Homo sapiens: one gene and its partners. The protein of the gene in region 3 purifies or fractionates together with the protein of the main gene of each other region. This does not show direct contact. Each region holds a gene or a part of one and is shown on either strand. Other genes may lie near its edges. The genes, in order: PPA1, ESYT1, RHOQ, NSF, CIBAR1, SLC39A10 and CPNE8.

Region 1 (3,500 bases), on a different chromosome or scaffold from region 3:
ATATGATGCCATTTACATGAAATAACAGCATAGGCAAATCCATAGGCACAAAGTAGATCTGCAGTCATCAGGGACTGAGGGAAGGGGGACAGGGAGTGATTGCCCATGGATACAGGATTTCCTCTGGGCTGATGAAATGTTCTGCAATTAGAGAGTGGTGATGGTTGTACAACTTAGTGAATATACTAAAAACCACTGAATTGTACATTTTACAATGGTGACTCTTTGATATGTGAATATCTCAATTAAATGTTTTAAAATAAATAAACATACCAACTGAGTGCTGGTATGTGGGGAAGGAAAGGACCAAAAAAACAGTAAGAACCTACCAGATTTTTTCTTTCCTGGAATGAAGGAGAAAGTTTACTTAGTTAATTACAAGTGCAGTCATAGAAATAATGCTTGTCCAGTGCTTTGTTCCTCCATCCTTTAACAGTTTGAAGGTAAGGGCTTACAATTCTGTCATTATAGGTTAAGTATGGTGGTGCTTATGAATTAATTAGAAAGACTTCAGACTTTTCAAATTTTCTTACCATTATAATTGGCTGCATCAGGATCATCCACATTAATGGCAATGACTTTCCAGTCGGTTTCCCCTTCGTCAATCATAGCCAATATGCCTAGAACTTTCACGCCAATTATTTCACCTCTTGCACATACCTGAGAGTCAATAGCCAAAGTCAGGACAACATTACAGAACCACACTCTAGAAGACAGTTTTACTTGGCTAACAGGAAATAAGAAAGAGGCCAAGTTCTTGAGAATTTACCTGAAGATTGTTCCTTTAAGCAAATTTTAAAAACCTAAATGAGTAAATGTTTCATCAGTCCTATTAAAGTTGAAAACAGGACTTATAGGTCCTATTTTCTTCTAGGTCATAGGGAAACCAGTACATAGCTCAGGGTAATCAATGTTTTTTGCACTGTCATTGATTATACTGAAGAATAAGTCCTCCATAGTCTCAAATACGTATCTTAATATGCTTTACCTTTTATTTTATAAAAGTCATGAGTTAAGCAAGTCATACGATGACTCAAAAACTTTATGACTTAAAAAACAAAATGATAACTTTGTTTTTAGTTGTTTACTATTTCTCTGCACCTGAGAGAGACATAAAGAAATAACTATAATCAGAATCTTAGAACAACCCTACTTGATGGAGGAGTTACTACCATGGATCTCCAACTCATGAGGTTATTTGGTTCGGGTCAATTTACTGATCATTCTAAATTGTTAGGCAAGATTTGCCATGTTTTGAGAGGGAATTTCCCTCCTGGTACCTTTCACCTATTGACTAATTATCCATCTTCTAAAGCAATGCAGAACATGTCCAGTTCTTCTAGATATATGTTCAATCATACATACATAGACACATTTTTTTCCAGACTAGATTTAAATGTAAAAATTATAATATACAAATGCTTAAAATGCAAGAAGCCTTTAATACCAAAGAGACATCATTATTTCACTAATATTCATGCATTTTATTCACAGTATTTTTTAAAGTATGAAATTTGGTATACTTCATTAATATCTCAACACTAAAGAAAAAAATGTCACATTTCATTACCTTGCTTCCAATTTCACACACATCAATTGGGTCATTGTCACCACAACAGCCAGTATGTTTATCATTGTGCCCTGGGTCTTCCCAAGTCTAAAAATATAAGACAGTGTATATCATTCCTATACATACTGACAAAATGGATCATGTTGAGAATAACAGATAACATCCTATGACTCTTCAGCTACTTTTTTCTCATTGTTTTAGTTCTTTATTCGCATTTAAGAATCTTAACTACACACAAGAGTTTCAATTAAATGCTGTAGCTCCTACTACACATCTAATGCTAAACTAAATTTAAGCTTTAAAACAGATAATGATCCTATTTAAAACAAGCAAAAGCCAACTACTCAATAACTGAGACAATAGGGAAACACAAATATAGACCCAAACGTTTACTTTAAAGATGTGTGGTTTTAGGCTGGGTATGATGGCTCATGCCTGTAATTCCAGCACTTTGGGAGGCTGAGGAGAGTGGATCACCTGAGGTCAGGAGTTTGAGACCAGCCTAGCCAACATGGTGAAACACTGTATCTACTAAAAATACAAAAATGAGCCAGGCGTGGTGGTGCATGCCTGTAATCCCAGCTACTTGGGAGGCTGAGGCAGGAGAATCGCTTGAACCCAGGAAGCAGAGGTTGCAGTGAGCCTAGATCATGCCACTGCACTCCAGCCTGGGCAACAGAGCAAGGCTCAATCTCAAAAAAACAAAACAAAACAAACAAAAAAAGAAAACAAAACAAACAAAAATGTGTGGTTTTTTTCTTTTTCTTTTTTGTAGAGACAGGGTCTCACTATGTTGCCCAGGCTGGTCTCAAACTCCTGGGCTCAAGTGATCCTCCCACCTTGGCCTCCCAAAGTATGGGATTATAAGCATAAGCCACTGTACCTGGTCTTAGATTTTCTTTATAATAAATTCCCAAAACAGAAGTAGATAGGCAATAATAGTAAAATGGAAAGGTTGTTTTTCTTCTTCCTTTTTTTTCTTTTTTTCTTTTTTTGCGACAGAGTCTTGCTCTGTCGCCCAGACTGGATGGAGTGCAGTGGCGCAATCTTGGCTCACTGCAACCTCTGCCTCCCATGTTCAAGCAATTCTCCTGTCTCAGCCTCCTGAGTTGCTGGGATTACAGGTGTATGCCACCATGCCTAGCTAATTTTTGTATTTTTAGTAGAGATGGGGTTTCACCATGTTGGCCAGACTGGTCTCGAACTCCTGACCTCAGGTGATCCTCCCACCTTGCCCTCCCAAAGTGCTGGGATTACAGGCATGAGCCACCACACCCAGCCAAAAGGTTATGTTCTGATGTTAAAAGTATCATCACTGACCAGGAGCCCGGACTGAAAAGTTTAATCAGAATTTTCTGGAGCTTTACATGACTGGTTTTCTTTCCTTCCTAAATTGTAAGCCAGAGTCCTTGCAGAACATCTCACAAAAGAACTGAAAGCCTGTGCTAGCCAGGATGTTAGGTTTAAAATGTAGCTGTTGCATTGGTTCTTTTTTCCTCCAACTAGAACACGTTACTCAGATTTGTTTGTCTACTCAGCTGGAGTAAAGGCAAAAAGATAAATGAGAAGGGGGATAAAGGAAGACCACATCTAACAAATCCAACATTAAGAAAGCAAAATCCAACCCACAGAAGAGTAAGTATTTCAGCAATGTTCTCCTACAAGGATGATATATCAAGGCTAAATACTATTAATAAATCAATTGAGGCCGGGCGTGGTGGCTCATGCCTGTAATCCCAGCACTTTGCAAGGCCGAGGCAGGCAGATCACAAGGTCAGGAGTTTGAGACCAGCCTGGCCAATACAGTGAAACCCTGTCTCTAATAAAAATACAAAAAATTAGCTGGGCGTGGTGGTAGGCGCCTGTAATCCCAGCTACACAAGAGGCTGAGACAAGAGAATCACTCGAACCTGAGAGGCAGAAGATGCAG
Region 2 (3,500 bases), on a different chromosome or scaffold from region 3:
ATTAGCCGGGCATGGTGGTGCCTGCCTGTAATCCCAGCTACTCGGGAGGCTGAGGCAGGAGAATTGCTTGAACCCAGGTGGTGGAGGTTTCGGTAAGCCGAGATCGCACCACTGCACCCCAGCCTGGGCAACAGAGCGAGACTCCATCTCAAAAAAAAAAAAAAATATTATTCTGGAGCGACAGTTGGGGAACAATGGAGAGATATTCAGGGAGGTGGGGAGTCTAGGTAGATGGATTAAAAATAGGAATCAAGGGAAAAGAAGGAGAGGAGAAATGGTACAGATCTGGGAAGTCAGAATAGGGTATTCGGGAGGGGATGAAGAGGTGATTATCTCACTTGCACATCGAGCTCCTGGCTTTGAGGGTCTTGTAGGAAGAACCGGAACGCTTCCTCCCACACTGGGCAGTTGGTACTGTAGACAGCCTGGAGATGTAGAGGAGGGATTAAGGGTGTATACCACAGCACCATTCCTGTTTCTGCAGAAAACCCCTGCATGTAACAGGCATTCTAAAGGGGAAACCATCCCAAGAATAGGCCTCTCCCTGTCCTACCTGGCCACCCACAATGATGTCCTGGCCCTCACCTTGCTCTCCTGAGTCACATCCTGAATTGACAGTTGTACCATAGGGTTGGGTTCCTTGTTCCCCTTCTTCAGCTGTGGTGGGTACAATTCAGAGGTCACCATCTTGGGGGATTCGGTTTTGGTTTTGGTGAAGGAAGGTGGGATCGCATCAGAATCCTTTCCCTGAGATGGATCTGATCCCCTCCCTGGGACCCTTATGTTACATGCTGATACTTCTGGAGCAAAGCAGGCAGGGACATTTGCATCCTCAGCAAGGCAGGGTTGGGGAATGTTACATCCAGGGCTCCTGTTCACCCAGCCAAACTCACAGGAAGATCCTGGGCCCGATCCAGGTAGACAACTAAGATGGCAGCTGACGGGGGATCTGGTCGAGAGGAGACTCCCCAATTCCACTGTAGAACCTGGGGAGGGGTGGTAGTAGTCAGATCTTGGTCCCCGTTCCAAGTCCCCTACACTTCCAGCTACCTATTTCTCCCCTGCCAGCTTCCTATTTCCCATGTGGCTTACCTGCTCCAGTTTCTCTGCATCTGACAAAAGTGACAGCCATTCTAGCCTCAAGTGAACTTGGCCTTGCCCACCTTGTAGAGGGAACCACTAGAAGAAATTGAGATGTAGTAGAGATCAGATACCTGCTCAACTACTTCCCTACCAATGTAGCAACTACTATCTACCCAAAGGGTGAGATCAGCCCCCACCTTCCTCTTCTCCCAACTTACATCATCCAGAACGCTAGCCTGTAACACCTTCCCTACATCCAGCTTCATTCTGAGGGTTGGCGGGGGAGAGGGTAGTGAAAGGAAGAAAAGGGTAGTGTTGTAATTAGCAGCATGTCAGTGGCCCTCCACTCACCCACCCAGAAATGACTGGCAGATCTCAGACTCCCTTATTCCTCTCAGAAGATATTCACCTGCATGCGTGAGTATGTGCATGGTAGGGGCTGGGGGTGGGGAGGTTAGGAAGGAAAATGATACATGATTCCCAGGCCCAGAAAGTGAGTATAATTACCTCCAGAACCTCGGTAGCATGGGCTTTATTTTTTTTATTTTTATTTTTTTTCTTTAGAGACAGAGTCTCGCTCTGTCGCCCAGGCTGGAGTGCAGTGGCGCGATCTCGGCTCACTGCAAACTCCTCCTCCCGGGTTCACCCACCATTCTCCTGCCTCAGCCTCCCGAGTAGCTGGGAGTACAGGCGCCCGCCACCACACCCGGCTAATTTTTGTATTTTTAGTAGAGATGGGGTTTCACCGTGTTAGCCAGGATGGTCTCAATCTCCTGACCTCGTGATCCGCCCGCCTCAGCCTCCCAAAGTGCTGGGATTACAGGCATGAGCCACCGTGCCTGGCCAGCATGGGCTTTAGAATCCTAACAGGCAGAGTCTCACCTGCCCAGAAAGTCATCTTTATCTGGATCCTTGTCGAACACCTCCACTTCAATCTCCTGCCCTGGGACCTCGTGTACCATCACCTGGGGAACACAGAAGGCTGAGTGTCTCATGGGGCTGCAGCTGTGAGGATCATCCAATCAGCATCTTCTCTCACAACCTCCTGGGGCTTCCCCATTTCACAGAGCTGCTCAACTCTCCCACCTCATAAGTCTCTCCCCACTGTGGGTTGAGTTCTTCATCAATGACACGACTGCAGAATGTCTGGGTACCCAAACGCACAAGTGCATATGGGTCTGACTTGCCCTCAATCAGGCCCTTCACATATTTGTCCTTGGAACTCAGCCCTCGAGCAGCCAGCAGGTGAATTCGAATAATGCCCTGGAGGAAGGAATCAGATGGTGAGAAACTAAGGACCCAGCAAGGGGTTCCTGAGAGAAGGATCTATCTAGTGGGGGAAAGGCCATACCCTGGGCAGAGGGGAACGCAACTGAGCCACATCTTGAAGGTCAGGCACAAGGGGCACCAGTAATCGGTTGGGCAACACGAGGAAGGCAGCAATGGAGTCCATGATCATGGTGTCAGAGAGTGAGCTGAATGGGGGAGTAGAAAGGAGTGGGTATGGCCTCAACTTCCAATTTTCTCCTAACCCCAACTATGTTTCCCACACCCAAGAGAGACCTAAAGCTGTAAGAAAGTCCTTTTGTGAAAATCCTTTGTGCTACTCTTCTACCCTAATTCCCCACCTACTGCTCTCTCCCTTCTTCACTGCCATCCCCATTGCCTTTTGCAGTCTTCAGCCCTCTGCATTCCCTTCCTGCTCCCCCAACCCAAAGAAAAATCACAGTATCAAACTTTGCAGGGGTATTTGTCTTTGCTCCCCAAATGAAGTTGAGGCTCCTAGAGGACACAAGCAGCATCTTTGACTGCTCTGTGTCCCTTAAACCCCCAACCCAGCGCTGGAACACTCAGCAGGTGCTCAGTAAGTCCTTGATACCTAAGTCCTGGGATATCCAGCAGGTTGGTCATCCCTGTCCAGTTGATGTCTAGGGTCTGGAGGGAAAGAGCAGGGGTCAGGACAGATCCTATGGGGTGTGGTCATACCCATCAAACAGTTGCCAGAACCCCTCGGCCTTCTTGTCAGTTCCCTTCTCATTCCCCTTCACTGGCTGCCCTCATCCTCCCAGTCCTCTGTTTCTCCTGCTTCCCCATACCCCTTCATTGTTTTCCCTTACCGGGCGTCGGATGAAGAACATTGACACAGCCCCCACGAAGGGAAGGTCCCCAATGAGTGGCTCCAGTATCACCCGCAAAACGCCATGTAGCTGAGGCAAGAAGAGAAAATCAAAGCCTTTCCCCAGAAAAGTCCCTCTTCTGTCCTCCCAGACTTTCTCAGCCTTGGTCTTTCCAACCTCACACTTCCCCATATCCCATGAAACGCAGGACAAACATTCCCTATTATGTGGCCCCTGACATCTGGCCTACCTGCATGCCCTTGACTCCTGCTTTGCAAAAATATTTCTTCACTTCCACAT
Region 3 (3,500 bases):
TGCCAGCCCACAGTCTAAGCTGGCATAACCCAAACCCACATCAGAGTCCCAAGGAGGGGAACACAGGGCATTCAGACTTTGGAGCGAACACAGCAAAGGCTTTGGAGTCAACAAAGGCTATCCACCTTCCCAACGCAGAGGAGGAAACCAGCATTCCCGTGTGATGCGGTGTGGGCTAGAGATATAAATAGCTTCTAAAAAGGTTAGCAAAATGCACACATGACAAATCTACAGTAGGTTACTAAGGGAAACCAGGATGCTCAGTGCCAGCATCTCACCTGTTGCAGCTGATGCCTGGAAGGAACCCTGGGGCTCCTCCCAGGCTCTGCTCACCGGGCTGAGCAAGGATGGAACACGGGGCTACAAGGACCCAGAGTCTGATGTTGTGAGTGGCATTTCCTAAACCCTACTAATGTTCCCTGCAGGCCTTCTCCAAAGTAGAAAACCTTTTTCCTAATCACATCTCTGTCTGGTTCCCATAAGCCCACTTGTTCCCAATTTCCTCATCTGGGAGAAGTCTACCTTGAAGGGTGTTGTGAGGATGACTTGCCTGGAGGTGGGAGGAGCCTGGTGAGTGGTGATCCCATGGCCCTTTCTCCTTCCCTTTTCTCATCATGCCAGGCCCTTCTGCTAAAATGCAGAAGGTGGGGCATGCCAAGCCTGCCTCCGGTGGAGATTCCCTTCTGTAGGGGAAGTGCCTTGTGGGCACCCAGAGGGCATGCAGGGCAGCCACAGCTGCTGGGTTATATCAAGTGTAAAACAAATCTCACTTGTCATTGAAAAAGCAACACCAAGGGACACCAGAGTAAAAGATATTTATAGCTGTCATGGACGCTTCCCTGAACTTGTGTGTTTAAGTTAACAGACATAGAAACAATACATCCCAAAGCACACAAATTGACTTCCACACACTGAGACAGTGGCTAAATCTGGAACTCTAGGGATCCCAAATTCACCCCCAACACACATCCTCCTGAGTGTGGATATTCTGGGACCTGAATAAACTGGGCTTCAGTCCTTCCCTCTCCAGGGTATCAAGTTCTGCCTTCCTGCCAAGGATTAAGAGATCAGCCTAGAGCCCACAGCTAGAGAGCAGCTTGCCAGGCAGCTCCCCACTGGCCTGTCTGGACAGAGAGGGAGAGCTCTTTCCACTTCCCATCGCTCCAAACAGTGCAGTAGCAGGAGGGAAAATCCCATCTCTCCAGTCCCTCCTTGAGCAGACAATGGGGTTGCTGCAGAGCCTACACTGAAGTCCTGAAGGCTGGGCAAGAAAGGAGAAGCTCCACAGAGGCCCAGGCAGGAAGCCAACCCCTCACCCCCAAAACACACGCAAGGCCCCTAGTGAGAAGGAAGATGCCTCGGTCAACTTCCACTCCAAAATGCTTGGCAGTCAAAATGTGACAGCTGCTCCTGGACCACCCATGGGCTTGGCCAACAGAGGGGAAGTGTTCCCTTTGGCAGTGGTGCTCTGAGTGTGCTGGGATGTCCCCAGGCAGTGCACATGATGGGGACTGAAGTCCAATACACTCTCTCTCCCATTCTCTCTCTTTGTCTGCTAATAGCAGCAGAGGTCAAGTGGAAAGCAGCCTGCTCTAGAAGGCCAAAGGTCATCTACAACAATCACCCTTTGACTGGTAGATGCCCTAATATGTCAGTCGGACAAATGATGCCTATGGCTTTGAACTTGACTGGGGTTAAGGCAGGGACCATGAGTGAGCAAGTGGACTAGAGGTTCCAAACTGAGGGAGGCACTGTTGCTGTTATTCAAATACAATGAGTGCCCACATGCATGAGTGAACATTTTGGAGAGAAGGCAACTGACCTGTAGTGCCATGAGCTGCCTCATTCCATCTTAACTCTCTGAAAGTAGAACCAACTGAAGCCTACATACCCTACTTGTCTGTCAAATTCTGCATGGAACTCTAAGCTATTTCTCTTCTATCAATGGGGATACGGGCTCTGCTTAAGACAGAAAACCATCTGATACAACAGGGCATTTACGGCAGGGAGCACTGGGCTTGGAACCATGGATCCCACAATAGGGACTATGGGAATTACAATGCGCAAAGCTGTTGCACACCTTGGTTGAAAAGGTTCTAGGATCTGGCATTCTAGTGGAATTTCTATCAACTCCAGGCACAATATACTGTTCTCTTCCACTCTGTGAACCTTTCTCCCCACAAAACTCCCCATAGTGGAATATAATAATTTCCTGTACTATTTGTCACTCACCCACTATGCACAAAGTATCAGCTGCTTTTAAATATGTTAAAGAGTTTAAGCCAGCCTATGACCTTGTAATGCAGATTCTAATTATTCACGTTTTTACTAGATCACAAAGGTAAATAATTTAGCTAGAATCACATGACTAGCTAAGGTGGAGATCTGAGCCCAGGCCTGTTTTGTTCCAAAGCCCATGGACCTTTCTCTGCTGCCCACTAGGCTTAAGGATTTGTGTATATATATATATGTATATACATATATATATATATATATATATATATATATATATACACATATATATATATATATATATATGTATATGTGTATACGGATACATATATATATATATAAACCCTTAATGTTTTTTATTTACTTTTTATTTACATGTTTATTTATCATTGTTATTATTGTAAGACAAATCTGATATGGATTCCTAGAAGCCTGAGGTCTTAATGACCAAGTGCAATGTAGAGATCTCCTATGTAACACATGAACAGAGACCCGAGACAGACATTTCTCCCTTTGCTGACATCAGCTGTGGTAGATCCCCATTTTAAATTCATTCCTTTGCACTCCCCAGGTGCAAAAGTACCTGGACATAGTACCAGGTACACAGCAGGCACTTGCCATTTGGTCTCATCATTGCTAAGTTGCTTATTAGTAATAAACCCTCAAATGCTGGGAGATGAAATATTACTAGCTTTGATGCAAAAACAAAAGTCTAGACACTGGGAAAAACACCAATGGGGCCTAACACACATCTAGGCCCCACCAATGGTGTCCAGCATTGGGTGAAAACAGTAGTATTTGAGCCTTACTAATATGTTCATCCTGCTTGGTCTATATCTTATGATCCTCCACTAAAAAGAGTAATTACGGCCATATATGGAAAGCCCTGGTTTTGTAAGTGGGGTCAACTTCAAGTGACTCTGGATCTAAGTTCTCTCCTCTGTAGAGGTGCCATCCAACACCCACTCAGAGAATGGCTGTGAAGATTACAGGTACCACAACTATGGATGCACAAACAATCCAATCAACCCCGTGGCATCTCAGCATTCCCATGGTGTCCTGTGTGTATAACTACTTCAAACTGGAGCAGATTCAGACCCCTGTCCCAATCCTAGCAACACCCCTCAGTAGCTGTGTGACCTCAGGCAAGCAACCTAGCTTCTCTGAGCCTGTTTCCTCACCGCAAAGATGAAATACCACCTATCTCATGGGGTTGTTTTATGGACTAAATAAAATAATATTTGCATGTGTCTGCCTCTGGCCCCATA
Region 4 (3,500 bases), on a different chromosome or scaffold from region 3:
GTTCACACCATTCTCTTGCCTCAGCCTCCCGAGTAGCCGGGACTACAGGTGCCCGCCACCATGCCCGGCTAATTTTTTGTATTTTTAGTGGAGACGGGGTTTCACCGTGTTAGCCAGGATGGTCTCGATCTCCTGACCTTGTGATCCGCCCGCCTCAGCCTCCCAAAGTGCTGGGATTACAGGCATGAGCCACCATGCCTGGCCATATTACAACTTTTAATACAATACAAAGATTTAAAAACACTTCTTCAAAATTTTCACTTTACGTGTCTGTGTCAGATGGTGATGACCTAAGGTAGATGAGTCAGTGGTTACTACAGGGCAGATGCAAACATTATCTTCCTTCCTGCTACTCTGAAGATTTAGCAGTTGACAATTAATTCTTATTCCTTTTACCATCTCTTCTCCACCAAAAGTCAGCATTTCCCTACCCCTTGATATGCTTGAAAGGAAAGAGAAAGAATACTGGCATAATGTTTATAATCTGTTTAGCTGATTTTCCTGACCTTTATGTGTCTATTCATAGCAGTGGACTGGGCTGCTCGCACCAGACCCTCCAATTCAGCACCACTGAAATTCTTGGTCTCCACGGCCAGTTCTTTAATGTCTACATCAGCAGAGAGTAACTGATGCCCTCTCATTCTTGCTGTGTGGATGTGAAGAATCTGTAGTCGGCCTTTCTCATCTGGCAAGCCTGATGAAATTAAAAATAAAATAGGCATTTTCCTAGTCTCGAAAGCACCATCAGAGGAGATTATCATTATTATTATTACTATTATTTTGAGACAGAGTCTCGCTCTGTTTCCCAGGCTGGAGTGCAGTGGTACGATCTCAGCTCACTGCAACCTCTGCCTCCTGGATTCAGGCGATTCTCCTATCTCAGCCTTCCGAGTAGCTGGAATTACAGGTGCACACCACCACACTCGGCTAAGTTTTTTGTATTTTTAGTAGAGAAGGGGTTTCACCATCTTGGCCAGGCTGGTCTCGAACAACTGGCCTCAAGTGATCCACCTGCCTCAGCCTCCCAAAGTGCTGGGATTACAGGTGTGAGCCACTGCGCCCAGCCTAGAGGAGATTATTATGATCCTAATGTTTTCCTTATAGGTACTCAAGCATGTAAACATCTACTTCTCATGATATAAACCTTTTCTAAAAAATACTACACCATATGACATTGTTCCTGTTAATGAACTCTAAATGCCTCCACTCCCCCCACCACACACCCAATCAGTGACAGATCTCCTTACCTATCTCCATTTTAACTTCCAGTCTTCCAGGTCTAAGAAGAGCCTCATCTATCAGATCTGGTCTATTGGTCATTCCTGAACACAGATGTTAAAACAAAACAACAAATGATCAGAGTTCAAAAATAAAATCAAATGTCCTTTTAGTATATGTAAGAATAGTAATTTCCCTAACAAGCTAAGGAGACTTTGCTTTACTATTTCACTACTGTATAAGCCAATGGAATATAAATGTTATGAAAACTTCCAGTATTTAAAAAGAAAATTTAAGATTCAAAGGGTAAATAATCTGTCAAAGTGACAGAGGGGCAATGTGACACGATCTCTCTGACTCCAAAGTTCCTTCTCTTTTTTACAGGCCAGTGGTTTTCAGACTTCATAAAACAGCAGGGTGTTTTTTTTTTTTTTCCCCCAGAAGTCATCTTCAGAAGCACCTCAGTACATAAAACAGCTAAAAGAGGAAGTTATAATAGTGATGTAGGATCTGAAACGCACTCCCTGGCCCTCACTGACCCTGAAAGCACCTCTGAGGACCCCCGAAGGCCTGCAAGACCCAGTTTGAAAACCACTGCATTCCATTGTTTCATGTGTATTTTTCATTTTTGGGTGAGCTATAAGCTTCAACCTACATCTTTTTCACCTGTGGGTGAGCTATAAGCTTAAACCTACAAGTGACTGAAATCCATCTTTTATTTTTCCTATTAAGCCTAGGCATTACAATAGATTCTTCAATATCACTGGATTCTAATTTGGAAACACTGGCAAAACAGTTTAATCACAACCTACACACATCTTAATTCAGAACTTATGGCTAACGTTTTTGAATGAATAGTACTTTTTTAAAAAGTAAACATACCAATGACTAGGATGTTGTTTAGCTGCTCCACGCCATCAATTTTGGACAGCAACTGGTTGACAACAGTGTCATGAACTCCCGTGCTACCAGCCATGCTCCCTCTCTGCTTGCAGATGGCATCAATTTCATCAAAGATGATGATGTGCAAACCACTGTTAGCACCAAGCTATTAGGGGAAGAAATTATATTAAAGATCATAATTTGAATGTCTTATTAAACAAACTAATCAGAAAAACAAAACAAAGCTTTCAACAGATTGACTTCACTTCATTTTGACTAATAAATATGGCAAGTGCAATTGTGGTTGTTGTCCTCTCAAAGGTGTTGGAACTAGATTCTCAGAATTCTGCAAACTGAAAACTCATTCTAGAACCTCATATTTAATAGCTATAAAATGAAAATACACATTATATACTGATAGTGTGTGTGTATAGATAGAAAGTAAGTAGTCGATCAAATAATTTATATACATTTCTTATCTCACTATTTGAAAGACCTTACATTTGTCAGATACTTTCATTAAGTCAGTCAGTGGCAACACCCTCCCATTTTCCCTGAGTTTTGGTGAGAAGACTGTCCCAGAAGCAGTAGGTTTAATGTTTGTTTCGTTATATTATGTAACTAAAGGTTAACTCCACCTACAGGTTGACTGGGAATTGGACAAATGAGTGAAGAAACTCAACATGACTCACATGTACTTATATTACATGAAAACAGATTACGCCTTCCTAACAATAAAGTGAGAACAGAGACGGTTTATAAAAAGAACATGGTTAACAGGGTGCTGTTTCTTCTGCATAATGATTTCTGCCTTAGTTTACTAGAAATAGAATCACCATTAAAAGAAATTAGTTTGTATATTTTGAATCTTTAACAGATACAAACACTTCTGAATGCTACTAATTCATTAGGTTAATTTAACACGTACCTTCTAAAATTTATATTTAAGTAATTTAGTCTCCTATCAGGGAGTAAAGTGCACTCTGGAAATTTTTTCTTTTATAAACAAAAAACACGGCCGGGTGCGGTGGCTCCTGCCTGTAATCCCAGCACTTTGGGAGGCAGAGGAGGATGGATCAACTTAGGTCAGGAGTTCGAGACCAGCCTGGCCAACATGGTGAAACCCTATCTCTACTAAAAATACAAAAATTAGCTGGGTGTGGTGGCAGGTGCCTGTAATCCCAGCTACTCTGGAGGCTGAGGCAGGAAAATCACCTGAACCCAGGAGGCAGAGGTTGCAGTGAGCCGAGACTGCACCACTGCACTCCAGCCTGGGCGACAGAGTGAGACTCCGTCTCAAAAACAAAAAATACTAGGGATTAACAAAACTGGTAAAAAATGAACATAACCTAAATATGACAACATACGGATAATAAAAATTAAATGAGCATAATGAGACT
Region 5 (4,168 bases), on a different chromosome or scaffold from region 3:
AGTTCAAATTTTAATACAGCTAACATTTTCAGTGTGTTCAGCACAGTAATGGATACTTTGCATATATTATCTCTGAACTGTAATAGCTCAACTTTTCAGAAAAGAAAATCAAAGCTGAAAGACAGAGCATCTTGGAAACATTTAAAGCAACATAACCTTGAAAAGCAAAAAAGCTTAGAGATCACTGTATTTGCTGCATTTTTTTTTCTGAGAAGCCATTTGTGAATTATCGAAGCCTACAGAACAAGATAAATGGTCTGAGTTGCTGAGCTGTCAAACTGTATGTTTCATCTCTGTTTCATTTAGAATTAAATAGTTTTTCTTAAACGTTACAGGTTTTTAAATCACATTTTGAGTAATTACTTCTTTTACAAGTAGTACTAGTGGAAGGCACTGAAGAGAGATTTTTTTTAAGGCAAGTATTTAAATATAGCATAAGAAAAATAACTCTTGGACATTAAAATTTTTTTTCTCAAGATAGGTGATGTATTCAATTGCTTAAAATGAACATTTTTTAATAGCAGGAAAAGGGCTTTTTAATGATACATATTTATATAATTGACAAATACACTTAATTTCATATTGATTTTTCTTTAGTTTCTGTAAATGAAATGTATATGAATGTTTCATTTTAAAACATGTTAGGAAAATAAAAATCGACTTCTCATCAAGTATTCAAATATTAGGAATCCTAAAATCATGGATATTCAGGACAGTTTGCTTTACACCATTTCTTATAATCCATACTGATTATTCAGTTTAAGGATTATCTAAGTCTTTTTTCTGTTCTCCTTTTTGTTGCCTACCTTTTTGTCATTGTTCATTAGGACCTCCACCATTTGGTAAGCAAGGGAAATAAAAGGAGAACAAATGCAAATCAATTCACTTTGCTATTTGATAAATAGCACAAAGGTTTTCTACAAAGGGGCATTGAAATTATTGGCTAAAATAAGATTTTAGGATTACCTGTGAATATAAATTATCTTTGAAACATTAAGTCCCCAGTTATCATATATAATTGAGAGTTACTTGTTTATTACAGAAGTTTCATGACAAGAACTCCACATTTTTCCAAAAGTACCTCCAAATATGATTACTCTTCAAATTTGTATGGATAGCAATGATGAGTTCAATTTTTTTTATACTCATTCTGTTTTTTGAAAATTGAAATTCCCGTTTTAGGTTCTGAAAAGTATAAAAAAGCAACGCAGTTCTAACTGGGCAACTTCTGATAAGTTAACCTATGCCGTGAAACTGAAAATAAATACAAGTAAAAGTGCTTATTAAGTATTTAAAGGAAAAATATGGGCTTTTAGAAAGAAAACAATCACAAGGACACTTCTCCTGCTACCCAGAGCAAAAAGTCCACACGGTGTCTCAGTATTGGTTTGCTTCCATGATACAATTCATAGCATTTTGTTGTTGTTAGTAAACCATTGGTCAATTTTCCAAACCATGGATGCAGCAATGATGTCTTACCCATTTATTAATAATTTATCCATCCACATTACCATTCCCAACATTTCCATCTCCAGTCATTCTTTAAAACGTACTTATGTGCCACACAAGACATTAAGTTATGCTTATTTTCTTCCCCCTGGGTACTATTCCCACTACCCCCAGTAAACAGCCACCCCTTGGCCAAAAGTTGGCAAATAAAGTGGGGAAATTCAAGACCTCAAGATGCCCTAAAGGTTAGCTTGAAAAGGGTAAAATAAAACACAGAACGCTTCTCTTTAATAGACTCACACAGTCTTATGAAAATGTACGTTTTATCAAGTTTGCATCCACCTCTGCAGTTAGGTAGATTACAAGTGAAAGTTTCCACGGTTCCTTCATCCACTACTTCATGGCTCATTCATAACAATGACACTGTGATCTCACTCCATACCTCTGCTTGTCGATAATCCTGAAGTTTGGCAAACTCATCTGCAAAGTTCATCAGGCCCAGCTTTAAATGCGGGGTCTCTGTAGCAGCATACGCGTTAATTTCATTCACCAGGAGGTCTGCTTTGTCTCTCAGCCTGGCAGTTTTCCGCACATAGGCAGCGAAGATTTGGCACAGTTCTCCAAAATGCTTCTCCACATTTGAGACAGCTGTTTGCAGTTGTTTCGTTTGAGCGTTCCTAGGGAAAAGGTGACACAAAAGGCAAAACATTCTCGTTAGAGATGAGAAGGCTTCACGTTAATTTAACATGCAAACATTCCCCGGGCATTCTGCAGCTTTGAAGGCGTAAACCCATCAACGACCCAGCGTCTCCCGGCGCGGACTGCTCTCCATGGGGTCCTGACCTCACTATCCGGACTGTGTAGGCACAGGAAAAGGCCCAGGCCGGGTGGGCCTGGCCTTAACTGGGGAGGTGGCTGCTCCGGCTGCTCCGCGCAGCGCGGCCTGGGCGCCCGGCTGCCTCCTAGGCTTCCGCACTGCCCGCGGCAGTGTGGGGACCCGAGACCCGGTGGCGTGGGTGGGTGGCAGCCGGCCGGGCCCCGGGCTCCTCTTCGCCGCCGGCGGTGGCTGCAGCCCAAGGAATTAGGCCCCAGGTCACAGCGGGGACCGTGCAGCCTCCCACTCAGGGTCGGAATTCGGCGCAGAGGCCCCATGGACAGAGGCTTCCACTTCCCTCACCCCAGCCCTCCAGTGTGGGCGGCCCTGGGCAGCTGGGCTCGGGCTGTTACCGGTTTTCCAGGGTGCGCCTCATCATGCTGCCTCGCGCACGGCCGGGGACCTTGCGGGGGCCCAAGGACGGGGATTCCAAGGCGCCTGGGCGCGCGCTGGGGCGCAAGCAGCCGCCGGGAGCCTGAAAGCCCGCCCCTCGCGCCGCCGCGGCAGGCCGGGCGTTTCTATGGAAACGGGGCGCGCGCCCCCGCGGTCAATGCCCGAGGCAGCCTGAGCGCGGCTGGGGCTCGGAAAGCGCCAAGCAGGCAGGGACCGAGAGGGGTGATGGCGCGCCCACCCCTGCAGAGCCGCCTGCGCGGTTGTCCCGCGCGTCCCTGCCGGCGAAGGCTGTGAGAAGCACCGCGGGGCTACGGCGCCTCCATCCTCTCTAACAGCCGCGCTTACCAGACAGCCAGCCTCCAGCGCTGCTAGGCTACTCCGAGCAGGGGAGAAAAGACGCCGGTCCGCCGGGGACCAGGAGGGAGACGTGAAACCAGAGGCCCGGGGGCCCCCTCTCCGCCTGTGCGACTTGTAGTCTCGTACCAGACGCGTCCGCTTCACTGCTGAATCTGAAAACGTGGGCTCTTGAGAGCTGCCCTTGGAAGGAGCTGTGCTTTCTGCCTCATCTTTAACTTTTCGTTTATTCAGCAAATATGTATCAAGTTCCGACTTCGTGGAAGAGATTGTGTTAGACACTGGGAGTAATAGAAACATAATTAAGAAGCAGGGGTCCCGGACCTGAAGGGCCTGAGCGTCGGGTAAGGAGGCAACGCTTACACCGAACCTGTGCTGAGATAAATAACGAACAGTTCTGGCTCTTAGAGTTGGCCTGGGGGAACAAAAATTCAAAAAGAATAAAACCCCAAACAAACAGGAGGCTCTCCTTTGTCCTTTGAACGCCTCTGTCCCTTTGACCCTCCTGGCCTTGCGTGTGCTGCTTTTCCCAGTAAATACTGCAAGGACTCTATTCAGACTTTGTTTATTTATATATGTATTTTAGATGGAGTCTCGCTCTGTTGCCCAGGCTGGAGTGTAGTGGCACAATCTCGGCTCACTGCAACCTCCGCCTCCTGGGTTCAAGCGATTCTCCTGCCTCAGGCTCTCAAATAGCTGGGATTACAGGCGTGCACCACTATGCTGGCCTGATTTTTTGTATTTTTAGTAGAGACGGGGTTTCGCCATGTTGGCCAGGCTGGTCTTGAACTCTTGGCCTCAAGTGATCCGCCCCCCTTCAGCCTCCCAAAGTGCTGGGATTCCAGGCGTGAGCCACCGGGCCCGGCCTCAATTCAGACTTTATCTGCTTCAAGAAACCTCTCTGGGATCCTCCGTCACTTCACTTTTTCAGGCAGCGTTAGGGCCTTGTCCTAACGCTTTGGGACGGGGTCCTAATACTGTCTGAAGGAGCGAAGTGTTGGAATGCTCAAACAGTACACTTCGTTGATTTTGTACTGCCTCCTGTACCCTAGACTTTGAACCCTTTGAGACAGATTAAATGTGATTTTGGTCTTGTAT
Region 6 (3,500 bases), about 150 Mb from region 3:
GTAAATTGTATATTAAAACAGAAAAAAGATTTGGGTTTTAAATTAGGATAGTCTATAGTTTTTTTCTTTTTTTTTTTTTCAACTTTTATTTTAGATTCAGGGGGTACATGTACAGGTTTGTTACCTGGGTTATATTGTGTGATGCTGAAGTTTGGGGCATGAATGATCCTGTCATCCAGGTACTGAGCATGGTGCCCAACAACTAGTTTTTCAGCCCTTTCCCTCCTCCTTCTCTCCCGTTTTTTCCAAATAAAGTGAATAATTGAATGTATATAACATCTTATGAAAGCACATACAGTGTACATATAGAATTTATTTTCAAGCAAATAATCATGCCAGTTAAAAATTGAAAATCAGAAAGGTATGCTAAAGTTAAATCACTGAAATATATTAAGAAAAAAGTTCTTTAAATTCACTGTAAATATAATTTCATGGAATATATAATTTCTAAAACAAATTCTTAAATCTTTTTCTGTGAAGATTTTTGCGTAAACACAAGTACTTAAGGTTTTTTAGTTAACTGATATGTGTGTGAAAGTGTTGGATGTTAGTGCAACTGACATTTTTCTTTTTCCTAAAAAAGAAATAGATGTTAGGGGTTTTAGTTTTTTAGGAGTTATTTTTAATTATAGCTTTTCTTTTAAAAAAAAATAAGAAAATATACACTAAAATATGGGGAGAAAAAACTTTTAAAATTTAGCAGCAGTCATAGAAGAAATTGCAGAAACCTTAATAAGTTTCATTGCATGTACATGAAAACATCTATACATGAAAGGGAAAACATGATCAAAATAAAAAGGAACAGAACTGCAGGGTTTTTGCAGAAAATGTGACTGAATCATGTTATGTAAAAGCTCATATATGTTGGAAAAAATATTGAGACATCAGGAATAACTTTAAAAATATGAATTAAAAATAAAGTAAGACCTTTTATTTATTTAAAAATTTATAATAATGTGAATGAGAGTGCTATGATCATACTGCTGGTGGCAGTATAACCAAGCTTAATTTCTCTAGAAATCAATTTGGAAAGTAAGTATATGACAAAACCTGAAAAGTGTTAAAGTTTTTATAGTTTTTCCCCTCATCTTGGAATTCATTCGAAGCAAGTAATCAAAGATAATAGCACAAATTGGAATTAAAATGTTTGCATATTGTGTTTCAGACTGCAAACAGGCTGGGTGCAGTGGCTCACACCTGTAATCCCAGCACTTTGGGAAGCCGGGGTGGGAGGATTACTTAAGGCCAAGAGTTTGAGACCATCCTGGGCAACATAGGGAAACCACCATCTCGACAAAAAATTTAGCCCAGTGTGAGGTCGGGCACGGTGGCTCACGCCTGTAATCCCAGCGCTTTGGGAGGCTGAGGGGGGCTGGATCACCTGAGGTCAGGAGTTTGAGACTAGCCTGGCCAACATGGCGTCTCTATTAAAAATACAAAAATTAGCTGGGTGTGGTAGCAGGTGCCTGTAATCCCAGCTACTTGGGATGCTGAGGCAGGAGAATTGCTTGAACCTGGGAGATGGAGGTTGCAGCGAGCAGAGATTGCGCCATTGCACTCCAGCCTGGGTGACAGAGCGAGACTCTGTCAAAAAAATGAATAAATAAAATTAGCTGGGTGTGGTGCTGCGCACCTGTAGTCCCAGCTATGTAGGAGGATGGCTTCAGCCCAGGAATTTGAGACTTCAGTGAGCTATCATTGCACCACTGCACTACAGCCTGGGCAACAGTGGAAACCTGCCTCAAAAAATAAATACTTGAAAAACCCACAGACAAATGCTTGTGAAAATCTTAAAGCTAGAATTCATTTTCTTCCACATGTGACATTATTTTATTGGTTTGTCAACTAAAATTTAATTTATAATTGCCAACTTTTAGGTTTTTTTCAAAGTTATACATGAATATAGTTTAAAGAATCAAATAGTTGTGTGAAGTTTCTTGGGGGGAAAAATCAGTCCCCTGTCTGTTCCTTTCATATTCTGCCTAGAGAGATAAGGAACCCCTTAATTCCTTTAGTTGATTATTTTGCTATTCATTACCATGTCTCCAGATAACATGTTCATTACTTGCAGCTGATTTTCAGTTCTAACCATTATCTATTTAATGAAGAATGATTTTAGTGCTCTTTCACTTCTGTGCATACCTTCCTATTTCCTGTACTCCAGTTTCTCCGTACAATTTTCATTGTAATTTTGGTTTAGAACAGTAATTGGGGTTACATTTTTATGCTATAAATATTATTTTATACAATGTGCCATTGTAATAAATGACTACTTTCCTGCACAACTTTGTTTTTTCTGGTAATAATTAGCTTGATTTTTTTGTCCTTTTATTTAATATGCATATATTAAAAGACCCCAGCTCTGTGTTTCTGAATGTAGCTATATAAGAAAGGGGAATGTGGTCAAGACTCTATGTTCAAGAATTTTATGTAGTTTTAAAAAATTAATTGGACAGAAAGCTCCCATGTTGGGGAATAAGTAGCCTCTGTGTTGTCTGAAACATAAAAAAAGTCAATGTTATACAAAGATTGACTTGGAGATTTTTTGATTATTTTTTTCCCATGACGTCATGGAAAAGAAGGATCATTTTAGCTGGCAGTTTTTACAATGGCAAGCTGGTATAAAATCAAGGATGTATAACAGTGACAAGACACTGAAAAAGGGAAGGGTGAAAATGCATGGAATAATAAAGATTTGAGGTAGTGCAGCAGTAGCTATTTTTAGAATAAAGACAGCTGTCAGTGATGAGTGGAAAGAGAACAATAAGCTGTTGCCAGGCTGGAGTATAGTGGTACGATCACAGCTCACTGCAGCCTTGACCTCCCGGGCTCAAGTAATCCTCCCACCTGAGCCTCCCAGGTAGCTGGGACTACAGGCATGGGCTACCACACCTGGCTAATTTTTAAAACATTTTCTGTAGAGATGGGGTTTGGCCATGTTGCTCAGGATGCTCTCAAATTCCTGGGCTCAAGCCATATGCCTGCTTTGGTCTCCCAAAGTGCTGGGATTACAGGTGTGAGCCACTGCATCTGGCTGGTTAGCACTGTAAGTCTGCTTCATAATGCATGTAACTAAAATCATAAACATTTTAGTAGCTTCAAAAGACATCCCAACGACTGCATTTACTAATCTCAGATGTTTGTATTCACAAATAGCAGAACAGAGGTAGCAATATTACAGGTAGCTTTCTCCAATATGGTTCCAGGTTCCCTGTAATGAAAGGCTGAAAAGCAGAAATGCAGGTAATTGTTTTGACATTTGATGAGAAAATGTAGGTTTGTACATGAATGTATAGAATACAATAAAGATAGATATGATGTGTTGTTGATTGATTTGATACTTTAAATCAAGGTATAAATGTTTATATTCTCTCTCAAGTTAGTGAAACAGGAGAACTGAGTTAATGCCCAAGCTTAATTAGCATGCACTTAACTTTTTACATGAATGAATCTCAGTGGAAAGATTGGGTTGCCTGAACTGTGCTTTTATTTATTTATTG
Region 7 (3,500 bases), on a different chromosome or scaffold from region 3:
AGTATAATTCTATTACTGATAATTCATTTTGTATACACATGACATTCACCAGACTCCAGAGAGCCGCTTACAATTATAATTTTGGCCTCATCACCCATCTCCCTGGCCCCAATACTGCTCAGTCAGCATACAATCCTCACTTCTTTACTCTTTTCTTCAGTGCTTAGATAATGCATTTGGGTTGAAAACATTGTTTTCAATTTTACCTTTCTACACATGTTCATGAGTCAATGCTTGGGCTGAAACGCTGCTAGTATACATAATTAACAGAGAGCTACTGTTCAATAATTTGTCAAGGTGTACAATATATATCATAATTATGTAAAATCTGTATATTACCAATAATAAGATAATTATCCCAATGCAGAAGACATTTTTTAATCTCCCTTACTTCTTGGATATGTAAATATAACTCATTATGTTCAAATACTTTCAGTAAATAATACTTTTTATATCTAAATTTGCTTTTACAATTTTCACATTACTTTGGGACATAAATATGCACCAATGGTAACACTCAGTGGTCACAAACACTTCTCCATTATTCTCTAATATGTTAATAATTTACAACAATTACCCTATACACATGCTAAAATGGGAAACAAGAATTAGATGATAATCTAGGTCTCACTTTCCACAGTCTTCTACAATCCCCATTGGTCTTTGTGTTTCATTCCAATTAATGAAGAAAAGGACAGTCATTTAGGCAATACTGTATTAGCATGAAGTCCTATAAAATATCTCCCACTTTTCAGCATGTCTGGTTTAAAACACTGTAGACAGCAAGAAGTGGAGGCTGTGCTTTTGAGAGCAAGAAGAGAGATGGTGTGTAAGTGGTGGAGGGGTCAGGTCTACTCTTCAGGTGTGCAGACCATCTGGTCCTCAAGCAGGTGGAGATTATGAACCCCAGTCTCCCACCATTACCTCTTCCTGGAAAGGTGTATGAGACAGATTTGCATTTCTTTCTAGCCATGGGAGACACAATGAAGTTAGAAACCCTTTTATTTATCCCCTTCGTCTAACTCGAATCAAAGCAGATAGCCAGATGCTGCTTTAATTTGACTTTTTGGCTGCCTTTTAAGTATAAAGAAATCTTGCTTTGAGAAATCTTTCTTTATAATAAAGGTTCTTTTTTAGTACTGAAAAAGAGTCACTGGGGAAATTTATGTAGATAGTTTTAAAATGGTCTTATCAAAATACAGAGTTAAATTTAAATAATCTAATAGTCTATTCTTATTTCCTGTACCTTCAAAGGACAGATGGCAACATATTGTATTTCTTGCCCATGGAAACAATGTCTTTCAGGTTAAAAAATGTGTAGATGTTGGCTTTATGTGGTTAGCTGATGAAATCTGTGATATGGTTTGGCTCTGTGTCCCCACCCAAATCTCATCTAAAATTGTAATTCCCATGTGTTGAGGGAGGGACCTGTAATCCCCACATGTAGAGGGAGGGAAGTGACTGGATTATGGGGGTGGTTCCCCCATGCTGTTCTCGTGATAGTGAGTGAATTCTCACAAGATCTTATGGTTTTATAAATGGCCCTCTTTCCTGCCCTCTCACATGCTCTCTCTCTCTCCTGCCACCATGTAGGATATGACTGTTTCCCCTTCCACCATGATTCTAAGTTTTCTGAGGCCTTCCCAGCCATGTGGAACTGTGAGTCAATTAGACCTCTTTCCTTTATAAATTACCCAGTCTCATTTCTTTATAGCAGTGTGAAAACAGACTAATACAATTTGCCAGTTGGATTTAGGTCAGTCAGTTCATATGTGTGATATATACACTTACTCTAGAGTAGATTTGGAAGTGTCATGAGAGGCTCCTCTGATAGGAGAGCAACAATTTGACTAGTCAGAGATTTTTCTATATTAAACATGAGTTTAATATAGAAATTTTTTTTAAGCCATGAAGAGATGTGTTTTGAAAGGAAAAAAGGAAAAATATTTTAGAGAAGCACCTGTTGTCGCCTAGCAGAATAATCTACTTTTCTAGTACTGGGCCCAGAAGTTTTTCTATCCCATTAGAACTTCCATCATGGTGAAAACAGAAACCAGGTGTTACAGGAGCCTAATTCCCTGTTCCCATGTTTCCAGAGGAAAATTTCACTCTAACTTCTGGGAAGGCAACTTCCCTTTTCATCTACAATCTTCATTTACCTTTCTGCATGGAAAGAGGAATAGGATTACTAAGATTAGGAGAAATAACTGAGCTTGAATCACTCTCATTTGGAGCAGCACTATCCTGAGGATAAGTATAATTTCTCTCGGTGGCATGCTTAATAGGCAAAACTCCGCCTCTATAAGGAGAAGTCCTGGAGATAAGAATGAGATAATTTAATTTTGGAGGGAAAAAGTAATGGGAATGTGATTGTCCACAGGTTAACCCAAGTTCTCAAATTCTGCATTGCTAGTAATAAAGCTGATAGAGTGATCCGAATGATTCTTGCATATATTTTTTTCCAGTTAGTTCAGGACCTCACAGAGAGAAAATGATGAATTATCATACCTTAAAACCCTAACAAATTTGCTGGGAACTAAAGAAACGAAGAAAATAAATAGCTGTGGCTATTGGATAAGGGCAGTAGCAAAACGGCTGTGCCTGCTGCTCTGTATAGAAATGTGTTACCAGAAATATATGCCAGGAAGGGTCAGTGGCTTTGCATTTATGAATCAGGTGTGGGAGCTCTCAAAGAAAAAGAACTGATTGAGGTTTACCATCTCTGAGGTCATATGCCTAAAGGTGGACTTCCATAGGAGTCTGAGAGACCTGAGATATACCCATGAAAGATACATCCTTCAAAGTCAAAAGCAAATAGTAGCCAAAGAAGAAAGCATGAGTTATTTTAGCCTACCAATTGGTGAAGTTTGTGAATCACAGTCTATCACTAGTTAATGCAGATTATCAAGTGTGCAAAGCATGGAGAGGAAAGATGTCTTAGCCTTCCTGTCTCCAGAGAGGTATCTGAAATTCATGCCCGAAGTACAACTCAAGTAGATGCTAATAGAGATAGAGAAAATAACAGGAGAAGCAGTGTTGGTGAGGGATAAATGACTTGCTTTTGAAACTGTAAGATTATCATGCTAGAAAGGATGACCAGCCAAGATTAGAATTTAGGGATTCCAGGGTCAGCAATACAACTTGCCTGTGGTGCTTTACCTGAGACTGACAGCTCTTTATTATTCTCATGCAGGAGGGACTGGTGGTTAAATAAGAATCACCTCAGTGATAATTACAATCTAGTTAGCCACCTATGTGCTTAAGTTAACCAGTAACTTACAAAGATTGTGTCAAACATTCTAAAACCATTCTCATTTCCAAAGCCTCAAGCTAAATAAGCTGCCATTGTTAATATAAAACACCTGAACCAGGTGAATATTATGTGGCTGTGTACTTGCTGTCTAGCACAAAGTTCTCTTAAAGGAATTTATCAGATGACTACGAACATTTACCCAGATCACTCGTTACACAAACATTTGTCTCTTAATGGGCATTTGAAC

The links.
Region 1: the proteins of RHOQ (region 3) and PPA1 purify together in Homo sapiens (affinity purification with mass spectrometry, with the first as the bait; one large-scale study listed by BioGRID). This does not show direct contact.
Region 2: the proteins of RHOQ (region 3) and ESYT1 purify together in Homo sapiens (affinity purification with mass spectrometry, with the first as the bait; one study listed by BioGRID). This does not show direct contact.
Region 4: the proteins of RHOQ (region 3) and NSF purify together in Homo sapiens (affinity purification with mass spectrometry, with the first as the bait; one large-scale study listed by BioGRID). This does not show direct contact.
Region 5: the proteins of RHOQ (region 3) and CIBAR1 purify together in Homo sapiens (affinity purification with mass spectrometry, with the first as the bait; one large-scale study listed by BioGRID). This does not show direct contact.
Region 6: the proteins of RHOQ (region 3) and SLC39A10 purify together in Homo sapiens (affinity purification with mass spectrometry, with the first as the bait; one study listed by BioGRID). This does not show direct contact.
Region 7: the proteins of RHOQ (region 3) and CPNE8 purify together in Homo sapiens (affinity purification with mass spectrometry, with the first as the bait; one study listed by BioGRID). This does not show direct contact.

What each region holds. Positions count from the first base shown.
Region 1 is NC_000010.11:70,212,930-70,216,429, forward strand, and holds part of PPA1 (inorganic pyrophosphatase), read right to left. Parts: intron 1,658-3,500; coding exon 1,571-1,657; intron 661-1,570; coding exon 534-660; intron 1-533.
Region 2 is NC_000012.12:56,131,267-56,134,766, reverse strand, and holds part of ESYT1 (extended synaptotagmin-1), read right to left. Parts: coding exon 3,451-3,500; intron 3,291-3,450; coding exon 3,201-3,290; intron 3,019-3,200; coding exon 2,963-3,018; intron 2,559-2,962; coding exon 2,435-2,558; intron 2,347-2,434; coding exon 2,170-2,346; intron 2,049-2,169; coding exon 1,966-2,048; intron 1,351-1,965; coding exon 1,302-1,350; intron 1,180-1,301; coding exon 1,093-1,179; intron 987-1,092; coding exon 894-986; intron 688-893; coding exon of another isoform or gene 658-687; coding exon 586-657; intron 426-585; coding exon 339-425; intron 1-338. UniProt on the Homo sapiens protein: Binds calcium (via the C2 domains) and translocates to sites of contact between the endoplasmic reticulum and the cell membrane in response to increased cytosolic calcium levels.
Region 3 is NC_000002.12:46,545,490-46,548,989, reverse strand, and holds part of RHOQ (rho-related GTP-binding protein RhoQ), read right to left. Parts: intron 1-3,500. UniProt on the Homo sapiens protein: Plasma membrane-associated small GTPase which cycles between an active GTP-bound and an inactive GDP-bound state. In active state binds to a variety of effector proteins to regulate cellular responses. Involved in epithelial cell polarization processes.
Region 4 is NC_000017.11:46,691,669-46,695,168, reverse strand, and holds part of NSF (vesicle-fusing ATPase), read right to left. Parts: intron 2,267-3,500; coding exon 2,101-2,266; intron 1,323-2,100; coding exon 1,248-1,322; intron 695-1,247; coding exon 507-694; intron 1-506.
Region 5 is NC_000008.11:93,699,182-93,703,349, reverse strand, and holds the start of CIBAR1 (CBY1-interacting BAR domain-containing protein 1), read right to left. Parts: upstream 2,801-4,168; 5' UTR 2,703-2,800; coding exon 2,677-2,702; exon of another isoform or gene 2,602-2,676; coding exon of another isoform or gene 2,293-2,601; intron 2,127-2,292; coding exon 1,892-2,126; intron 1-1,891. UniProt on the Homo sapiens protein: Plays a critical role in regulating mitochondrial ultrastructure and function by maintaining the integrity of mitochondrial morphology, particularly the organization of cristae.
Region 6 is NC_000002.12:195,663,726-195,667,225, forward strand, and holds part of SLC39A10 (zinc transporter ZIP10 precursor), read left to right. Parts: intron 1-3,500. UniProt on the Homo sapiens protein: Zinc-influx transporter. When associated with SLC39A6, the heterodimer formed by SLC39A10 and SLC39A6 mediates cellular zinc uptake to trigger cells to undergo epithelial-to-mesenchymal transition (EMT).
Region 7 is NC_000012.12:38,671,592-38,675,091, forward strand, and holds part of CPNE8 (copine-8), read right to left. Parts: intron 1-3,500. UniProt on the Homo sapiens protein: Probable calcium-dependent phospholipid-binding protein that may play a role in calcium-mediated intracellular processes.